Regions from separate parts of the Homo sapiens genome. Here region 2 is linked to region 1. Evidence: fine-mapped expression QTL. A gene starts in region 1. The other region holds a variant in brackets. All regions are shown on one strand. Distances are between the middles of the regions. Region 1 holds the start of HPS1 (HPS1 biogenesis of lysosomal organelles complex 3 subunit 1). Region 2 overlaps HPSE2 (heparanase 2 (inactive)).

Region 1 (2,906 bases):
GTAGTTAATACCACTGAACAATACACTTAAAATGCTTAATGATCAATTTTACATTATATGTATTTTACCACAAACAAATTTGAAAAAAAGAAACATGTTGACACAAAAAACCCGTACATAACTAAAAAATAGATTATATTGGATTACATAAAAATGTAAAACTTTGGTGCTACAAATGATACCACTAAGAAAGTGAAAAGACAAGCCACATAATGGGAAAAAAACTTTTGCAAATCAAGTATCTGATAAGGGGCTTGTAACCAGAGCATATAAAGAACTCTTACAACTCAATAATAAAGACAATTTAAAAATGGATAAAGGATTTGAATAGACATTTCTCCAGAGAAGGTACACAAATAGGCAAAAAGCACATGAAAAGATGCCGAACGTCAGGGAAGTGCAAATAAAATCACAAGACACCACTCCACGCTGGGTTACTATACTTAAAAAAAAAAAAATCAACAATAACAAGCATTGGTGAGGATGTGGAGAAATCAGAATCCTCATACATTGCAGTTGGGAAATGGAAATTACCAGTAGGGGAATGAATAAGTAAATAACAGCATATCCATTTGATGGAATTCATTCGACCACTGAAAGCATAGTGAGTGAACGATCTCAACGGTGGGCTGAGCAAAGAGATGCGTGTGGCAGGGCTATGTGCTGTAGATGGGGAGTTGGAAGAATTTGCCCTAAGGTGGGCTGGAAGGGGTGGGTAGTGGGTTGGGGGGAGTGATGCTCTCTTTGATCTGCAGGTGGTGGAAGTATTGATTCTTAGCCTCTGCCTTTCCCCCAAGAGATGCTCAATCTACTATATCCCCAGCCAGTTCTTGCAACCCATACCTTGCTGGGCTGGGCTCAAAGCTCCCAGGTGGCACCCAGGCACTGAGGGGTGGACTGTTCGGGGATTTAGGCCCTTCCAGAGCGCCCCCTCCACTTCCAGGCACCCCCAATACACATACGATTTTTTAAAATAAATATTGCAAACATAGGTTCAACACAAAACTCCTAATGTGCACTCCACTCCCAAAATAGATTGAGAACTCCTATAAATTCCAGCGTTGGCACTCTGGGGGCAACTGAGCCCTTCTGTGCGCTATGTCACCTCCCCAAAGGTCAGGGAGAGCAGTCACAAAAGGACAGCTCTAGCCCCAGAACTTCAGTTCATTAGGCAAAGCCTGAGGTTCCGGGGCATGGGGAGGAGAGAAGGGATCAGCTGAGGAGCCAGGAAACCTGGGTTCTGAGCCTGGTTCGGACCCTCAGCAAGTTATTTCTTCTCTCTGCGCCTCCGTTTCCTCTTCTGTAAAATGGGGCATGGGCAAGGCCTGGCAGGGGCGGGGCTCGAACCCGCGGAAGGCGACGGCGGCTCCGGCCCCTCCCGGGGCGGGCGGTCACGTGCGCGATCACGCGGTCCTACCCGGAAGCGCGCCCGGGCTCCTGCAGGCGGGGCGCTGTGCGCGCCGCGATCCGGTACGTGGGCCTCCGGGCTGTCCCCTCTGGGGGCGGCGATCCTCCCTCCGGAGCCCCCCTTCAACCCTCCCGGAAGTGAGGTAGGGTCCCTAGGGGTCCCGGAGCGGGCCCACTCCTAGCCTCACCCACTCCGGGCGTGTGGCCGTGGGCCGGTCGCTTCCTCGCTCGGGGCCAAAGTTCCTCAGCCGTGAAGAGGGGTGGATGTCACAAGTCAAGCCTCCTTCCCAGGGTGGCCGTGAGGTTCGGGGGTGGGGGGAGGTGGGGATTTGGGGTGAAACTGGACAGAAACTGGCGTGCTAGGCAAACGGGAGCCCCGCGGCGGCGAACTGCTGACTCGCTCTCTCCAGAGACTCAGGGGCAGGGCCGGGCTCCGAAGGTGTGGGACCCCAGAAGGAGCTGCTGAAGACGGGACCAAGGGCCACAGGGAGGTTTGCTGGGGTCCAGATGGTGAAAGTGGGCGCTGGGGGTCGCCCCAGGTTGGCCCCCCGCCATCTGGAGCTCCTTTCGTCAGTGAGTCCCCTCCGAGTTCCCTTTCTAGGGCAAGATAGCGAGGTGAAGCGGAAGTCTCAGTGTGACACCGGCGAGGTTCTCTTCCCAGCAGCCTTTGGGAAGCATCCCCCTGTTTCGGGAATATGGCATTCGGGCCAATCATGTGGGTGATGGAGCCCGTCTCAGGGTTCGGCTGCTAAAGGCCGAACTCGTAACAGCAGTCTCTGTGGCGGGTAGTCACTTGCCTCTTACTGGCTCACAGTGCTTGACTTCCTAATTAAGTTTTCTGTTGTTCCTGCCCTCTATTCAAATATGAATGATTCCGGAACCAGATTGATTAATCCTGTTATTTGAAGAAGGGAAGCTGGGAAATAGGAATAATGATCCCCACACCTATGTAAGAACGCAGTTTGCTAAGGTTACTTTGCAGCTTGCCTGGTCACTCCCATGATCTAACCCTGTAGGGAGGTAGAGTAGGGGATGTTGCTCTGTTTCTCCGCAGGAGTTTGAGGCTCAGAGAGGTTTATGGGACTTGGCAAAGCCAAAACTAGAACCTGGTCCCAGATGCCTTTCCTGTTAGTTTCCTTCCATTCATCGTATCATCCCAGGATCCCCACTCCCTTCACCGGGACTGCATCCTCACCACCTGGGATGTGCTATGCTGTCTCCCGTCAGTCACTCCTAGCAAGCTCCCTGGGGCTGCTTGGGGAGCTCTGAGTGACCCGCAGAAGTGAGAGCACTTCATGGGAACAAAGGAGGAAGGAACAAAAGTGGGCACCTGCTCTGTGCAAAGGGCTGTGCTGGCCGGGTTCCTATTCTCCATTATGGGAGGTGAGGGGCAGGATCCCAGATATGTTCTTAGCAGACTGCCTCAGGGCCTGGAGAGACCAGGGACCACGCAGCCCTTCTCCAGCTTGTCCTTTCTCAACGGGCAGCAGTCAAGACCA
Region 2 (2,906 bases), 21 kb before region 1:
TTTTGTTTGGGAGGTGGCAAATCATCTCATGTGACTGGAATACAGGATGCTTTGTGGGGCAAAGGGAAAGGCCACAAACACATAATAAGCCCAGACTGCAGAAGGCCTTGAAATCCAGGCTAAGTCTGATTTTCCTCCCTTCCTGCTCTTTGTGTAATATCTTTATATGGTGTGTCTGCTCAGACATTTGCATATTTCAGTGTTTTCTTAGAAGACAAGGAGTAAGTCTATTGTAATTTAATTGGTACAATGAAAAGAACGATGGAACTATGAATAATGCCCCTTAAACACTACTTGTAAATGTTGATGATGATGGCACCAATTCTTTACAGTGGTAGGGGGACATAGTTAACCACATGCTGAAGTCTCCATGGTTTTTATAGCTGGTTCCTATTGTGTCCTGTGGTTTGAGTGTGATATGCCTATGACATGGAGCTTTGAGATGGCTGCAGGATCAGATTTTCTTTCCAAACTTCCCCCAGATGATTCCCTCATCTGCTGGGAGTTAACAATATCAGTATAAATCCAGGTTCCTTAGTCAGGCTCTCATCTTGTCTGCCAAGTGTGCTAAATTATTTTAAGCCATTAGAAGCACATGGTAGAGTCCATTATGGATTGGATCACTATTACACAGACTTGGATAGAATACAGATCAAATCCTGACCCCCAAACCACACTACATCCAGGAAAAGCCTATATCCCTAACAACTTGCCTACAAAACCCCCAGCTCTCCTTGTATAAAGGGTCCTGGTATTTTCTCTGGTCAGTGATACAGAAGCTAGATCAAAACTGCTCACCATTTCAGCGTGTCCCTCAGAGGGTAGGATGGAGGGCAAATAAACTTCTCAGCCTCAAAATGTCTTAGGGACAAGGAACTCCAAATAGGGTATGGGCTGTTGGAAGGGCAAGGGAACAGGATACTATTTTCCCCATTTTCTCTCTCTATCCCTTACAGTCCTCTCTGTTAACAACAGTAGAGGAAGAGATTGGAACATACAGCCAGGCATGACTCCTAGAGCAGTTGATTGAGCAGAACTCAACAAGTATTAACTAAACAGCTATCATGGACAAAAAGGCACTGAGCCGCATACTATTGAAAATTGAGAAATGAAAAGTCAGTAGCAGACAAAATGACCCAAGCACACAGATAAAATAAGCCTGAGAGGGACGCTAAAAGGGAGATGCAGATAATGTGCCGCTCTCCCAGCTTGTTATCAGGTGAGGTCCCAAGCAGGAGGCTACCTCTGACAGGGCCTGGAGGGAAGAACAGGCTTTTGAGAGATTCCACCGGATTCCAGGTAGAGCAAAAAGCACATAGAAGAAAAGTTCAGGACACACTT[GA/A]AGTAATTGCCCCCGTGACTCCTGAGGAGTGGGAGCACCCCAGAGAGGGTCATGACGGTCTTAGAGCCTTTCCTCCAGCCGGACATGGGGTACCAGGCGACACCACCTGCAGGGGCCACTTCTGAGCAGCCTTCCTCAGCGTGGTAGCCATCACTCAAGGCAATTTCAGACGAACTTCCTGTTCAAGCTGCCCCAGATGCACCGTCTCCCCACCGAGCAGGAAAGGGAAGCAAAGCCCCTCTGTCCTCAAACCTGACTGGGCCTCCTCGGGACTCTAACCTGCCCCTGACCTGGAGAAGGGCAGGGCAGCTGCACATACCAGCTTCCTCGCTCAGCGAGGGGGCCGGGAGCCTGCAAAGCACAAACAGGTGCGGGGCCGACCCGACTGGCGGCCGGGGGCAGCCGGGGACCCGGAGCCCGGGAGAGCCCAGCGCCGAGTCGTGGCGGGCGCCGCAGACCCCGCACCTGCCCTGGGACCCCCCGTTCTCTGCACGCTGGCCGGGAAGCCGGCACCCCTGCAGGAATTGCAGTCCCGTTTCGCACGTTTCCTTAATATTAGGCCACATTCCAGGTGGGACCCTTGCCAACGGGACCGCAACGAAGTTCTGGTTGGGATTTGATTGATTCTGTGATTTGTTCCTCCGGGAGGCCAAGCGCAGGGCACATCTCCCGGCCTTCCTGAGACTGGAGTGCGGGATTTGGAGGCAGGCGGACGCATTCCGGCTTCCTGGGTGCCACCCCGAAGTCAGACTGTCCTGGCACCATTGTGTAGGACAAGAGTGACCTCTAGTGGCCCCTAGGAAAGCACACTGGAGGAAAGGGAGCTGATAACTCAAGCGCAGGCCCATACAAACACACAGTCGGACTTATCTCTCCCCTGCCCCTCCTCCTTTCTCTCCCCCTTCCCTCTCTCCCTCTCTCTCATCATTTAACAATCCAGAAACTGAGACCAGAAGCGGCTGGTCACATACCTAGACCTGCACATTTCATGTCCCAAGCCTGGACTAAAACGGGTTTCTGGCCTTCCTGTCCAGAGTCTTTCCTTCTAGGTAGTAGTTCTTTTGCCCACGTGTTTATATCCAATGTGTCTTTTATTGACGCCTCCTGTGTGAGTGGGCGGACAGAAGAGTGACGGATGAGTAAGACACATGGGCTTCCAATCTAGTGGAGAGACTGACAAGCAGTCAGCTCAGCGGTCACAATACTGTGTGACAGGAGCTGAGATCCAAGAAGTACTGGGTCCTGTGGGAGCACCCCTGACTTGAAGGACAAGTAAGAGTTAGCCAGGAGAAGGAAGCTGGAAGGGAGGAGGAGGGCATATGGAGAAAGGTCCGGGTAGAAGGAAACCGTGTGCAAAACCCCTGTGCTTAGGCCGCGATTAGATAAATGGCCGTAAAGAATGAAAGGAGGTGGGGGTGGAAGGGAGCTGGAAGGGGCGGGAGCTAGAGTGAGCCTCTTGGCGGTTGGAGAAGTAGATAATAGGGCCTGTGCATGGGGACTTCAGACAATGTTCTAAGATCAGCGGGAAGCCACTGAATATTTAGACAGGTCAATATCATGGTCA

Evidence for each region.
Region 2: its variant is fine-mapped to the expression of HPS1 in B cells (CEDAR, PIP 0.95).

The regions. Positions count from the first base shown.
Region 1 is chr10:98,445,451-98,448,356 of GRCh38, reverse strand. It overlaps HPS1 (HPS1 biogenesis of lysosomal organelles complex 3 subunit 1), which reads left to right and starts at 1,422. Exons shown (of 20, transcript NM_000195.5): 1 at 1,422-1,550. It overlaps HPS1-AS1 (HPS1 antisense RNA 1), which reads right to left and starts at 2,036. Exons shown (of 3, transcript NR_134454.1): 1 at 1,600-2,036. RefSeq lists a silencer at 1,255-1,604.
Region 2 is chr10:98,466,840-98,469,745 of GRCh38, reverse strand. All of the region lies in intron 11 of HPSE2 (heparanase 2 (inactive)), which reads left to right. Among named protein-coding and RNA genes, the nearest start is that of HPS1, 21 kb to the right of the region's middle. RefSeq lists silencers at 1,700-1,799, 1,850-1,899. The variant GA/A (reference allele first, on the strand shown) is at 1,342.